3 linked regions of the Homo sapiens genome follow. The protein of the gene in region 2 purifies or fractionates together with the protein of the main gene of each other region. This does not show direct contact. Each region holds a gene or a part of one and is shown on either strand. Other genes may lie near its edges.

The links.
Region 1: the proteins of SLC35E2B (region 2) and SLC12A6 purify together in Homo sapiens (affinity purification with mass spectrometry; one large-scale study listed by BioGRID and IntAct). This does not show direct contact.
Region 3: the proteins of SLC35E2B (region 2) and AASS purify together in Homo sapiens (affinity purification with mass spectrometry; one large-scale study listed by BioGRID and IntAct). This does not show direct contact.

The regions. Positions count from the first base shown.
Region 1 is NC_000015.10:34,250,753-34,254,397, forward strand, and holds part of SLC12A6 (solute carrier family 12 member 6), read right to left. Parts: coding exon 3,596-3,645; intron 1,633-3,595; coding exon 1,418-1,632; intron 306-1,417; coding exon 147-305; intron 1-146.
Region 2 is NC_000001.11:1,689,903-1,694,284, forward strand, and holds the start of SLC35E2B (solute carrier family 35 member E2B), read right to left. Parts: upstream 2,894-4,382; 5' UTR 2,547-2,893; intron 1,492-2,546; 5' UTR 1,074-1,491; intron 1-1,073. UniProt on the Homo sapiens protein: Putative transporter.
Region 3 is NC_000007.14:122,141,393-122,145,702, forward strand, and holds the start of AASS (alpha-aminoadipic semialdehyde synthase, mitochondrial), read right to left. Parts: upstream 2,858-4,310; 5' UTR 2,769-2,857; intron 1-2,768. UniProt on the Homo sapiens protein: Bifunctional enzyme that catalyzes the first two steps in lysine degradation.

The sequences.
Region 1 (3,645 bases), on a different chromosome or scaffold from region 2:
CCAAGTTAACTTCTTGGACACTTTGATATTGATACTGATAGCAAAGAGTAGAAGCAAATCTAGGAACCCTGAGAATTCTGCCTCCTGAGAAAAATCACTCCGTGGGTCTGACAGCTTCTAAAATATACAACAGCCTATGTGTTTACCTGTAACAGAGGGAAAGAAGATTCCCACCAGAAGCGTGAAGGAGGTGGTGATGTCAACAAGAACATATTCATGGTTTAAGCTGCCTAAGACATCAGAAGATTTGGCTGAAGGCTTTTCGATGATCTCTCCCTTGGGTAGGTAATTACTCCAAAGATTCTCTGCAGTGGGAAAAATGGGAATTTAAGCAGCAGCAGTATGAAAAAAAAAAGATAATTAATTTTCTACCCAAACATTCAAAATCAGGCTCCTCATTTATACAGTTTCTAAAGGTGTGTTTGCTTCTACATGAGCACATGTATACACACACATTGCACAATAAAACACACATAAATAAAAACATAGTTTTTTTTTTGTTTGTTTGTTTTTTGAGACAGAGTTTTACTCTGTCACCAGGCTGGAGTGCAGTGGCACAATCTTGGCTCACTGCAAGCTCTGCCTCCCAGGTTCACGCCATTCTCCTGCCTCAGCATCCTGAGTAGCTGGGACTACAGGCGCCTGCCACCACGCCCAGCTAATTTTTTATATTTTTAGTAGAGACGAGGTTTCACCATGTTAGCCAGGATGGTCTCGATCTCCTGACCTCATGATCCTCCCACCTAGGCCTCCCAAAGTGCTAGGATTACAGGCATAACCCACGGCGCCCAGCTAAACATAATGTTCTTTCTTATCTAATTTAAATATAATTTGACAAAATGATTTGGTACATGCAAATATAGTTTAACTTTACTAATGCAAATTAGTAAAAGTTAAACAGACTAAAACTAAATGCCCCACAAATCCCATTATTATTTGTCATCAGTGCTGTTTCTAACACCTTAATGTAAACTTACTTATGTGCAAAGAAATTTATAGACCAAACATTTATAATAGAAGACACTTAAGGAATGTTTCAGGAATTTAGCTAAGTTAGGAAGATACATGTGGATGTGGACATTAAAACAGGTCTATTCTGTCAGTGCAGGAAGAACATTGGCAATTTTACAAGAATACACGGAATATTTTACCGTAAGGTTAGAAAGTGATTTGCTCAACTCTGCTCTGAAATGGAGGTGAATTTTAGCAGACATCACTCTGTAAAGGAGTACTGAATAAGGACAGCTTTACTAATGGAAAAGCAGAAATATGGTGAATTAAGAGCTGTGTGGTGTGCTTAAGAAGGGAATTAGCACCATGGCAGTGAATCTTTATGGACAGTAGAGGAATCTAAGATGACAAGGCCTATTTTCCCCAGAAAATAGGAAAAAACTTGTCCAATAACTCCCTAACTTACCTGTAATTATACCACTAGCCAATCCAGGAATGCCCTGGATTGAAGTGACGTTATTGTGAACAAAGTATTCATCACAGGTGGCATTGAAAAATTGACTCGAGTTACAGAAGAATCCCCATAACTTTGATGGGACTGTCATGTTGTTAATTTCCTTGGTCTTAGAGCAAACGTCAATGTGTCTTGATGAAAGGGTGCGGTTACCCAGCATGCAGACCCTAAGTGAAAAGAAATAGGGAGAAAGATCAAGTAAGGAAAAAAAGTACATTAAAAAAAAAGGAAACAGGTTAGTAAAGGAAACAAGAACCCCATCTTTAAGAGCTTCTACTGTTATGGGTGGGAAAGGAACTAATGTTTATTTATTTATAATTTATTTTAACACTGTGAATGGTGACTTACATTTTCTGCCAATTTAATACTTACAGCAACCTCACAATGTATTAGAATTTCTATGTTGTGGATGGAGGCACTGAAGTTTAGGAAGACAGGGAGTTAATTGAAGGTTAGGGAAATACAGTTATCTGTCCAAGGTCATAGGTGGTGGCAGTGAAGGAAGTCAAATTGAAGAACTGTCTGAAGACATTATGCTGACTCATCTTCCAAAATTTTTGGCTAAAATTGTTAGGTCTAAAAGAATACTGAAGTCCTTTTGTTGTTCTTATAAAGTAAAAAGCACTCCTCTTTTTTTGGCCTAGAAAAGCCTAACATTCATAACAAACACCTTGAAAATGTTATGCTAAAGGTTGAATCTTCTGGCTACTGTTGCAAGGAAAACAGCTTGGTCAGAATTAAAAGGCAGATCCCTCTATGGCCTAAGAGAAAACTGTTTTTGAATTTAAGCCTAGACTCAGTGGGAGTGACGGTAAGGATAACATAAATATTAACCTGCTGGTTTTACTTTTTTCTTTAACCCAGAGACACAAATATAAACAAAGGAATAATACATCCATAGTTAAAATACCTCTCAGGTCCAACAAAGGGACTTCTAAAATTTGCAAAATGATTGAATACATTATTATGAACCATGTACCTATTACTCAGCTTCAACAACTCTCAACATTTCCCAGTCTTGTTTCATGTATTATTCTAGATTTTTTGTCTTGTTTTGCTGGAATATCTCAAAGAAAATACCATGCATTATGACCGTGTACTAATCAAAAAAGAGGAGAAGCCCCAAAGGTGAACCTGAGACAAAATGGAATTTCCCAAATTGAGATATAACCAGAATGTCACCTTTAGAAATTTTATGCCCCTAAAAAGGACCTTCAGCTGTATTACAGTCCCTAGATAAGCAGATTAAAAGTTTAAGATGGAATCTACTTCTGCCATCATGCAGCATAGCATAGAAGAAATACTGAATGGGGAGTCAGGAAATCACAGTTCATCTTCTTGCTCTGCCATTAATTAACTTTGAGGTAAGTCATTAAACCTACTGGAACTGTCTTTTTGTCTTGAAAAATCTTTTTTTCTGTAATCTGGTTAAATCAACATAGAACCGATGAGTTTGATCCTCAGATAATCCAGATGACTCTTCAAGATAATTCTGTAACAAGACTACAAATAACACTGAGTGCCAGCTAGTCCCTATGCCACTAGTCAAAGGGAAAAGTGAGCCTGTGAGTCACAGATGTGCACAAATCCATTACTACTTCAAAAAACATACTTTAAAGTATTCGCACTAGGGAGTTGAAGGAGGTGGTGAATGATGAGAGAGTACTTAATGGGTACAAAGTACATTATTTGGGTAATGGATAAAAGCCCTGACCTAGGCTGGGCGCAGTGGCTCACGCCTGTAATCCCAGCACGTCGGGAGGCCAAGGTGGGCCTTATAAAGGTTGCTGGCAATAACTACACTGTCTGCAAAGCCCTTTATGAATAGTTCAAAATGTGTATAATAAAAAAAGATTATGTACAATTATCAGGGAGAAAAAAATCTAATATCTGAACCTAAATGATGGTTACAGCTACTAGTTCTATGCTTAGGACATAAGAAAGAGGATGAACGGGACATAGTTTGCTGGTAGGCTTCCTGCCTAGATGAGGAAGGAAGTCTAACTGGGCTTATCTGAGAGGGAAAATCTCAGAGAGACTCTATGAAATTCTGACTTAAAATTATCACACCACCAGATATTTTCAATTACTACCCAATAAGGATGGCTAGGCAGAGAGACAGACACGTACGGGAAGTGTGGAGGAGCAAAAGAAGACTTGATGGCTCCAGCATAGATGGC
Region 2 (4,382 bases):
CTTGAACCCAGGACGGGGAGGTTGCAGTGAGCCCAGACTGCGCCGCTGCACTCCAGCCTGGGCAACAGGGTGAGACCCTGTCTCAAAAAAAAAAAAAAAAGGCCAGACTTGGCTCACGCCTGTAATCCCAGCACTTTGGGAGGCTGAGGTGGGTGGATCACCTGAGGTTGGGAGTTCCAGATCAGTCTGACCAACATGGAGAAACCCCATCTCTACTAAAAATACAAAGTTGGCCGGCATGGTGGCACATGCCTTTAACCCCAGCTGCTCAGGAGGCTGAGGCAGGAGAATCACTTGAACACGGGAGGCAGAGGTTGTGATGAGCCAAGATCGCGCCATTGCACAACAGCCTGGGCAATAAGAACAAAACTCTGTCTCAAAAAAAAAAAAAAGAAACAAAAAAAAATATATATATATATATACATACCATAAAGTGAAATCAACAGCCACAACCTGGGAAAAAATACTTGCAACATGGCAAAGGATTAATATCCAGAAAGTATAAAGAATTCCTACAAACCAAGTAGAAAAACAGGCAAAAAAAAAAAAATGTTGGCGGGGCATGGTGGCTCATGCTTGTAATCCCAGCACTTTGGGAGGCCAAGGCGGGCAGATCACCTGAGGTCAGGAGTTCGAGACCAGCCTGGCCAACATGATGAAACTCCGTCTCTACCAAAAATACAAAAATTAGCCAGGCGTGGTGGCAGGCGCCTGTAATCCCAGCCACGCAGGAGGCTGAGGCAGCAGAATCACTTGAACCTGGGAGGCGGAGGTTGCAGTGAGCTGAGACTGCGCCTGCTCCAGCCTGGGTGACACAGCAAGACTCCGTCTCAAAAAGTAAAGAAAAAAAAAAAACAAAACAACATATTTCACAGAGAAGAATTTATGTTTTTGGAGAAGGAGTTTCGCTCCTGTCGCCCAGGCTGGAGTGCAGTGGTGAGATATCAGCTCACTGCAACCTCAACCTCCCAGGTTCAAGCGATTCACAGAGGACAATTTCTAAAAGGCAAATAAGAAGCAGGAAGGGTGCATGCTCCTTCTCTACTGCCCTGTAACAGTCATTCCACACTTACCACCTCAAAACAACAAATGCTTTTGATGTTGGCTCCTGTGGGGCAGCAATCTGCGGGAAGCTTAGCCAGGCACCTCTGGCTTAAGGTCCCTCCTGAAGCTGCAGTCACACCATGGACCAGGGCTGTGACCTCATCCGAAGGCTCAACTGGGGCTGAGGCCCACCTCTGAGCTCACTCAGGTGGACGCTGGCTGGGTTCAGTTCCTTGCTGGCTATAGGTGGAAAGGGCCCCCACCAGTTTCTTGCCAGCTTCTCCACAGGACGCCCCACAGCCTGACAGGAGCTTTCATCCAGCAAGCTCATCAGGGAGTGGGAGAGAGCAGCCAGGACAGGAGCCCAGACCTTTCTGAACCTCATCTCAGAAGTGACATCCTTCCCTTCTGCTGTCTGGGCACAGCTCCCCGGGTGGAGCCCGAGGACTAGAAGGAAAAGAAAACTTGGATTTAAAATGGGATAAAGCCATAGGAGCTGCTCGTCCCACCACAGGAATCTCAACGCCGGGTTACTGACAAAGCGTCACTTTGCACCTCGTCCAACTGTGCAGACCTCTCCTAGCCAGGCCCCTGCACCAGAGGTTAAGAATCCGTGCCCCTGGTCAGGAAGTCCAGGTGGGTTCAAACGGCCAGCAGGGAATTTCAGGCAAAATGTGTCCCAAATCTTCAAACCATGCCCCAGAACTCAGACCTCCCCCTGGGAGTTCGTCCCAAGGAAACCACCTGCAAGAGGCTCAGGCTGCAGGGGACACTCCGCTTCCAAAACCCGGAAGCTGGAGACCACACAAGTGCCCAACGCCAAAGGCACCCCGTGGAGGGACGCCCTGTGCCCTCCCCCGACCAGGTGACCCGCTGCGCCCTACACATCTTCACCAGGAAACATCTGTTATCGATGTGGACGAAGCGCAGCCTGCACTCCCAGATCCGCTCATTTTCGTTCTGCCCTCCGTTTTACGATTCGCCTACACTGAAAATGCGTGAGTGGAGTGGAAAGCCTTCCTACTCCTGCCTCAGCGACCCCTTCTAAAATACTGCCTCGTTTGGCCTGAAAATGTGATTTGCAGGCTTCCTGAGCAAAGTAGATTTCACTCCATTAAAGAAAAAAAAAAAGAAAAGGCACCGAACGGGGCTCGGCTGTCGGGAGTTTTGCTTTAGTTTTTTGCGTGTTTTGTTTTGTGTTTTTTTGTTGTTGTTGTTCTTTTTGCGGCCACGCACACCGCGTTCCCAGGCTTCAGGGCGTGGGGGTCGCCGTGGACTCCCGGACGTGAAAACGCTTAAAGCCAGCTGGGAAAACCCCACCAGCGTTTTCCGCGCACAGCGCCAGCCATAGGAAAGGACCCCCAGGAGCGAATCCGGGCAGGGAAACCCCGGACGCCCGCACACTCAGCATCAGTACCGGCACCCAGCACCCAGCACCGAGCACCGAGCACGCAGCACCCAGCACCGATCACCGAGCAGAGCACCCCGCACGCAGAACCCACCGAGAGCCTGATGCAGTCTCCGCCGCAGGCATAGCGCTAGGCCCCGGCGCCTTCACAACAAAGGGACGCTGGCGGGCGGGGCCTGAGAGGCGCGCGGTGGAGGGGCCGGGCGCGAGGCCGCGGAGACAGCTCGGAGCTCGGCACTGGGGAGTGGCACAGCGCTGGCGGATCCAGGTGGGCTTCACGGGGCGCCCGCGGGACCGGAAATGACGCGCAGAACCCTGCATCGGGCTCCTCGCTGCCCCGCGGGCGCCGCTCCTCAGTGCCCCAGAGCCACGGAGCCGGGGAAACGCGCCGCGGCCCACAACGCCCCCGCGGCTGCCCGTTGGTTCCGCCCGGGCCGTTCTACTCCAGGCAGACGGGAGGAGAAACACGGCGCGCTCAGCGTCCCCTCCCCCGTTGGTTCTGCTCGGGCCCTTCCACTGCAGGCCGACGGGGGTGGAAACACGCAGTTTTTTTTTTTTTTTTAAGGTCTAGGGTAACACGGGGCTTTTAAGTGCCTCTCCGCTGCCGCCTGGTGGTCCAGCCCGGGCCGTTGCAGTGCAGCCACACGGGGAGGGACACGGCGCGCCGAGTGCTCCGGGCGGCCGCACGTTGGTTCCGCCCGGGCCGTTCCACTGCAGGCAGAGGGAGAGGACGACGGTGCGCGTAGTGCATCCCCGTGGCCCGTTGGTTCCGCCGGGGCCGTTCCACTGAAGGCAGAAGGGGGGGGACCGTGGCCCCACCCCCCGCGGCAGCCCGTTGGTTCCGCCCGGGCGGTTCCGCCCGGGCTGTTCCACCAGCGGCACTTCAGGGCGGGATCGGCCAGTCTGTGGAGGCAGCGGCCTCTAAGCCCCGGAGGGTTTACTGCCCAGGTTTGGGTTCCAGGAATAAGAAATCCACTGAATAGGCTTAACTTAGAAGACACAAAGGCGCCTCCTGGCGGAAGTGGCCACGCTCCGCCCAGCCTGAGGGAAAGCTGCTCTGACAGCTGGGCCCGGAGCTGCGGGGGGCGGGGCCGCCGCGCGGGGTGAGGACTCGCCTCAGGGCGCTGATTGGCTGGTGGCGCGCTCCGGGGCGGGGCCTTCGTATCCAGGCTGGCGTCGGGGCTGCCGCGGGACATCCGGAGCAGACACCCGCGGGCGCGCCTGCGGCCCCGAGGACCCCCGGCTCCGGAGCTTCGTCGAGCGTTTTCCTAGCGTTACTTTCCCAAATAATTTTCAGGAATGAAGTTACGGCTAAAGGGCTCTTTAGAGATTACTTTTGGGCCGGGCCCGGTGGCTCACGCCTGTAATCTCAACACTTTGGGAGGCCGAGGCCGGCGCATCACGAGGTCAGGAGCTTGAGACCAGCCTGGTATGGCCAACGTGGTAAAACGTCGTCTCTACTAAAAATACAAAAATTGGCCGGGCGTGGTGGCGGGCGCCTGTAATCCCAGCTACTCCGGAGGCTGAGGAAGGAGGATCACCTGAACCCGGGAGGCGGAGGTTGCAGTGAGCCGAGATGGCGCCACTGCACTCCAGCCTGGCGACAGAGCGAGACTCCCTGTCAAAAGAAAAAAGAAAAGATTACTTTTGGCCGGGCGAGGTGGCTCACGTCTGTAATCCCAGCATTTTGAGAGGCTGAGGCGGGCGGATCGCCTGAGGTCAGGAGTTCGAGACCAGCCTGGCCAACATAGTGAACCCCCCCCCATCTCTACTAAAAATACAAAAAAAAATTACCCGGGTCTCGTGGCGCGTGCCTGTGGTCCCCGCTACTCGGGAGGTTGAGGCAGGAGAATCGCTTGAACCTTGGAGTTGAAGGTTGCAGTGAGGCGAGATAGCGCCGCTGCTCTCCGACCTGGGCGACAGTGGGAGA
Region 3 (4,310 bases), on a different chromosome or scaffold from region 2:
TAAATCGGAGTCTAGTCCAAAATGCTTATCTGCTTACTTGTCTGTCTCTTTGCTAAACTGCAAATGTGTATGAGTTGTGTTTTACTCATCTCTGTATTCCCAATGACTGGCACATGGGAAAACAGCAAGTGTTTTAAGAAAGAATGAATAAATGAAAAAGCAAATTCAATAAACATTATAAAGACCTATGCAGCAAGAAAACAAACAAACAAACAAACAGATAAAATAGACACATTAATAAGAGACTCACATCCCCCTAACCCTGCAAAAAAAAAAAAAAAAAAAAAAAAAAACTTGATTCTCTTCCAAGATCTCATAGATCAACAAATGTCGTGAAATATAGTACAGTATAGTGGGAAAACTTAGACATGGGAGCTGGGACACATAACTAGATGTAGGGTTCCTCCTCTTGACTTCAGTTTCCTTACCCAGACAAAAATATAATACTAAAGTCCCTTTCAGGCTCTGATATTCTGATTCTATTAAGCATAGTAGTAACTGGACACTGAGAATTACAAAAACATTAGAAATGTAGAACATAAATAGGCACTCTGACTTATGAATTTCTAGCTAAAGTACACCAAACAGGGAAACAAAATACCAAAAACACAATCAAGAAAGAGTGGACATTCACCTAAGCTACCTGCATTAATAGCATGGACCAGGAACCAAGAGCTTGCAACAGAAGATGGATACCTCAAAGGAATACTGGTTTCTCTCCTGGGTTCCTCAGCGGCCAAACTTACTCTGTGACCTTGGCTGGCAACTTAACCTGTCTGTGCATCATGCGCAAAATGAGAATCATATTAACCTCTACCTCTTAGGGCTCTTAAGACGTTTAATTGAGCTAATATGCATAAAGTGCTGAGCATTGCTGTGTGTCATAAACAATAAATTTTAAGAAAAGAAAAAGCCTCCAGGCTTGCCTACTCCTCAAAAGCGAGCACAACCACGCCGCTAACAGTAGACTCACATTTCTTTCCTCTGTCACACTGTAGTAAGACCTTCACGATGGCTCCATATTAATCCCCCACCCTTACATTATTTTGGAAAAAAAATAATTAGAGCCCAATAAGCCCTCTCTTCAACTTCAAACTTCAGGCATGCATGTTCAAGATAAATAAATTACCATTTTAATGTTGTATTTCATCAAATTTAAGACAATTTTTTTACACATTTTAGCATCAGTGAAATAGGGATGCATCTTACAATAGATGACACCTTAGATCAGATGAATGTGGTAATAATGTTTTGGGGTTATTTTCCATTCCAAATGTTTGTTTCCATGATTTCATGAATTGCATAGAATCTTTTGTAGCCTTCCCAAGAAAACTTACCACTGTTTGTAATGTTATTTCTATGAGAAAATTAATAAAAGAATATATGAAAAAAATGAAAATGTTTTGTTAAATGGTGGCTTCTTAAACACCAAAGATCATTTCCAAAATTCCGAACCAAGGTCTGTTAAACGACTAGTGAGAAAAAAAATTCAATGACAAATAAACCAAAGTTCTGATCACGCCATCATCAATAACAAGTGAAACTGATAACAAATATGATTATCTGAAGAGTGGGAAAATGATTCAGGTAAATTGGCTTCAATTTTTGTCCACCTAACTCATTTTGCAGAATGGCCACCAGGTTACACAGTCAAGTCATGTAGCCCTAGATTCACTCATCTTCATGGGAAAAAAAGAAGAGGGGAGTGCAGGGGACAAAACAGACAAACCCAGAAACACCAAAGTGCCATCAGTGTTTTGGGATTTTTTTTAATACAGTATTGGAAAGCCGCAGCTTCAGTCAAGGACCATTCCGTCCTGTGTATAACTACATCTCACAGCTGCACCTTCCCCACTGATAACCCACAACATCAAAAAATGTTAATCCTTGTTCAAGTTACTGAACTAATTCATTCTCTCTCGCGCTCGAGCGCTCTTTCTCTCTCTCTCTTCCGCTCCCCCCACCCCCATTCCCCTGAAATCAATGTCTGAAAAGCACATTTCTTCTTCTGAAGCTGTCAGGATAGACAGACATTCAGCCCCATTCAACCGAGGAGGGTGGGTAAACTGCTTCTCCCCGCGCCCCGTCCCGCGCGAGCGCTCACAATGGGCTGCATAGTCCCGCAGGGGCTGAAGAGTTCAGGAAACCCAGACTTGCAAGGCGCCCAACTTCCACCCATCTCCGATCCTTGCTGGAGAATGGGTCTGTGTCTCGGAGAGTGGGCAGCCCAAGATGGACAAGGAGAGAAGTTTGTGATCAGTTTGGCTAAGCTGGGCGTGGGGAGGGAAGGGGGAAAGAACCACCCCGAAATCTCCATCCACCGCCCCCTCAGCCAGCCGTCCCCTCTAAGCACGCCGTCCACAAATTAACAAGCCGTTGTTTCCTCAGCTTCATCAGTTCTTTATTCCCCAGCCACAGCACCACCACTGTCCGCCAAAAAAGAAAGAAAAGAAATCCGAATTGCAATCCCTCGCCTTTCTACTTAGAAATGCTGGAGCTGCGCTGACCGCTCTCCCTCCCTTCCTCGCAGTGAAACTCTCTGCGTTTCCGCTCTCCCTCCATTCCTCGCAGGGAGGCCCGAATGCTCGCCGCCTTCTCCCTCTCTCGGCCCGGCCGGGGTCGCCTCGCGGCGCCGGGACCCGAAGGCCAGGCTCGCGGGCCCCTCCCAGCGACAGCCCGAGCCCGGCCCGCTATCTCCACCGCATCTCACAGGCTGAGCCCACCCGCGCGTCTGCTCAGCTCTCCGCGGGGACCTCTCCTCTCCTCACCTCGTCCGCTCTGGGGCGCCGACTTGTCCCCCGCCGCCTCGAATCTTCCGAGTCGCTGCAGGGGAGGCTCCGAATTCCTAGAAGAAACTGGGATGGAAGGCCGGGAAGTAGGAGGTGTTTGCTCAACTTCTGAGGACGTCACGCCTCTGCCTCCCGTAGCCAATCAGCAGCCGCCCTGAGGGAACAACCTTCTCATCTGCCAATCGGCGGCGCTGCCAGTTGCTACGTCATGCCCGGCCCCTGCTCCTCCCCAAGATCCTTCTGTCTCTGATCTCTGATCTCTGACCTGCGTTCTTAGCTGGGACGTCGAGTTCTCCCAGGATAATTATCGACCAGGTTTGTAACTGTCCGTGGCAGAAGGCGGGCGGGGACGGAAAGCAACGAAAATAGTCTGGGCATTACGCTCTAAATAGAGGTGCACATCTCCTGGGGAAAAGTTGCGAGCGCCGGTACCTCACGTTTGTTTAGCTATAGACACTTTTCAAAGCATTTCACCGCCTTGTCACAACCCTGTGAAGCCAGATAACAGTTCTTACAACAGTTTTAGAAGCCAGCAAGCGGAGAATCTGAGAAATTAAAACTGAGTGTGTTCATGTGCATATGGCAATGTCCAATGTTATTGAAAAGTCCTAACTACCTAGGAGGCCTGGAGGGAGGGGGAAAACGTATTTCATAGACACTAGCCCCAGCACTAGGAACTGAAGAATCGTCTGAAGCCCAGCTGTGATTCCCCAAGGCGTCAACGGTCAGAAGTTAATCTTCCCTCCTGTTTTTACAACTTTCTCCACCACTTACTCTTCTTATACCTGCCATAGATGTATTTAGCTACTGAACTCCTATGTCAACAATCTATAGCCAGAACGTTCTTGAGACTCCACTCATATCTCCAATTGCAGAGAAAATTATTTATTTATTTATTTGTGGTAGACATGGGGTCTCGCTGTGTTGACCAGGACACTGGTCTGGAACTCCTAGCCTCAAGCTATCCTCCCACCTCGTCCTCCCAAAGCACTGGGATTACAGGTGTTAGCCACTGTGCCCAACCCCAAATTAGAATTTTATCTGTAAGTAGAGTTGGAATTTTCTTCTGTATCTTCAGCTTCACATTTCCAAAATCGGATCCCTTATCATTCTTGGAAAGTCTTCCAAAGGCTGTGTAGTGGTTCACACCTGTAATCTCAGCACTTTGGGAGACTGAGGCTGGAGAATCACTTGAGCCCAGGAGTTTAAGACTAACCTGGGCAACGTAGCAAGACCTGTGTCTACTAAAAATAAAAATAATAAAAATAAATAAAATTTTAAAAAGCCAGGTGTAGTGGCACATACCTGTGGTCCCAACTACTTAGGAGGCTAAGGTGGAAGGATCACTTGAGCCGCAGGATGTTGAGGCTGCAGTGAGCCATGATCATGCCACTGCACTGTAGTCTGGGTGACAGAGTAAGACCCTGTCTCAAAAAATAAAATAAAATAAAGCCTTCCCTTTTGTGCTCACCAGCTCTGTTACTAATATCACTGCCTTCCTACTCACCACCTATCCAGACT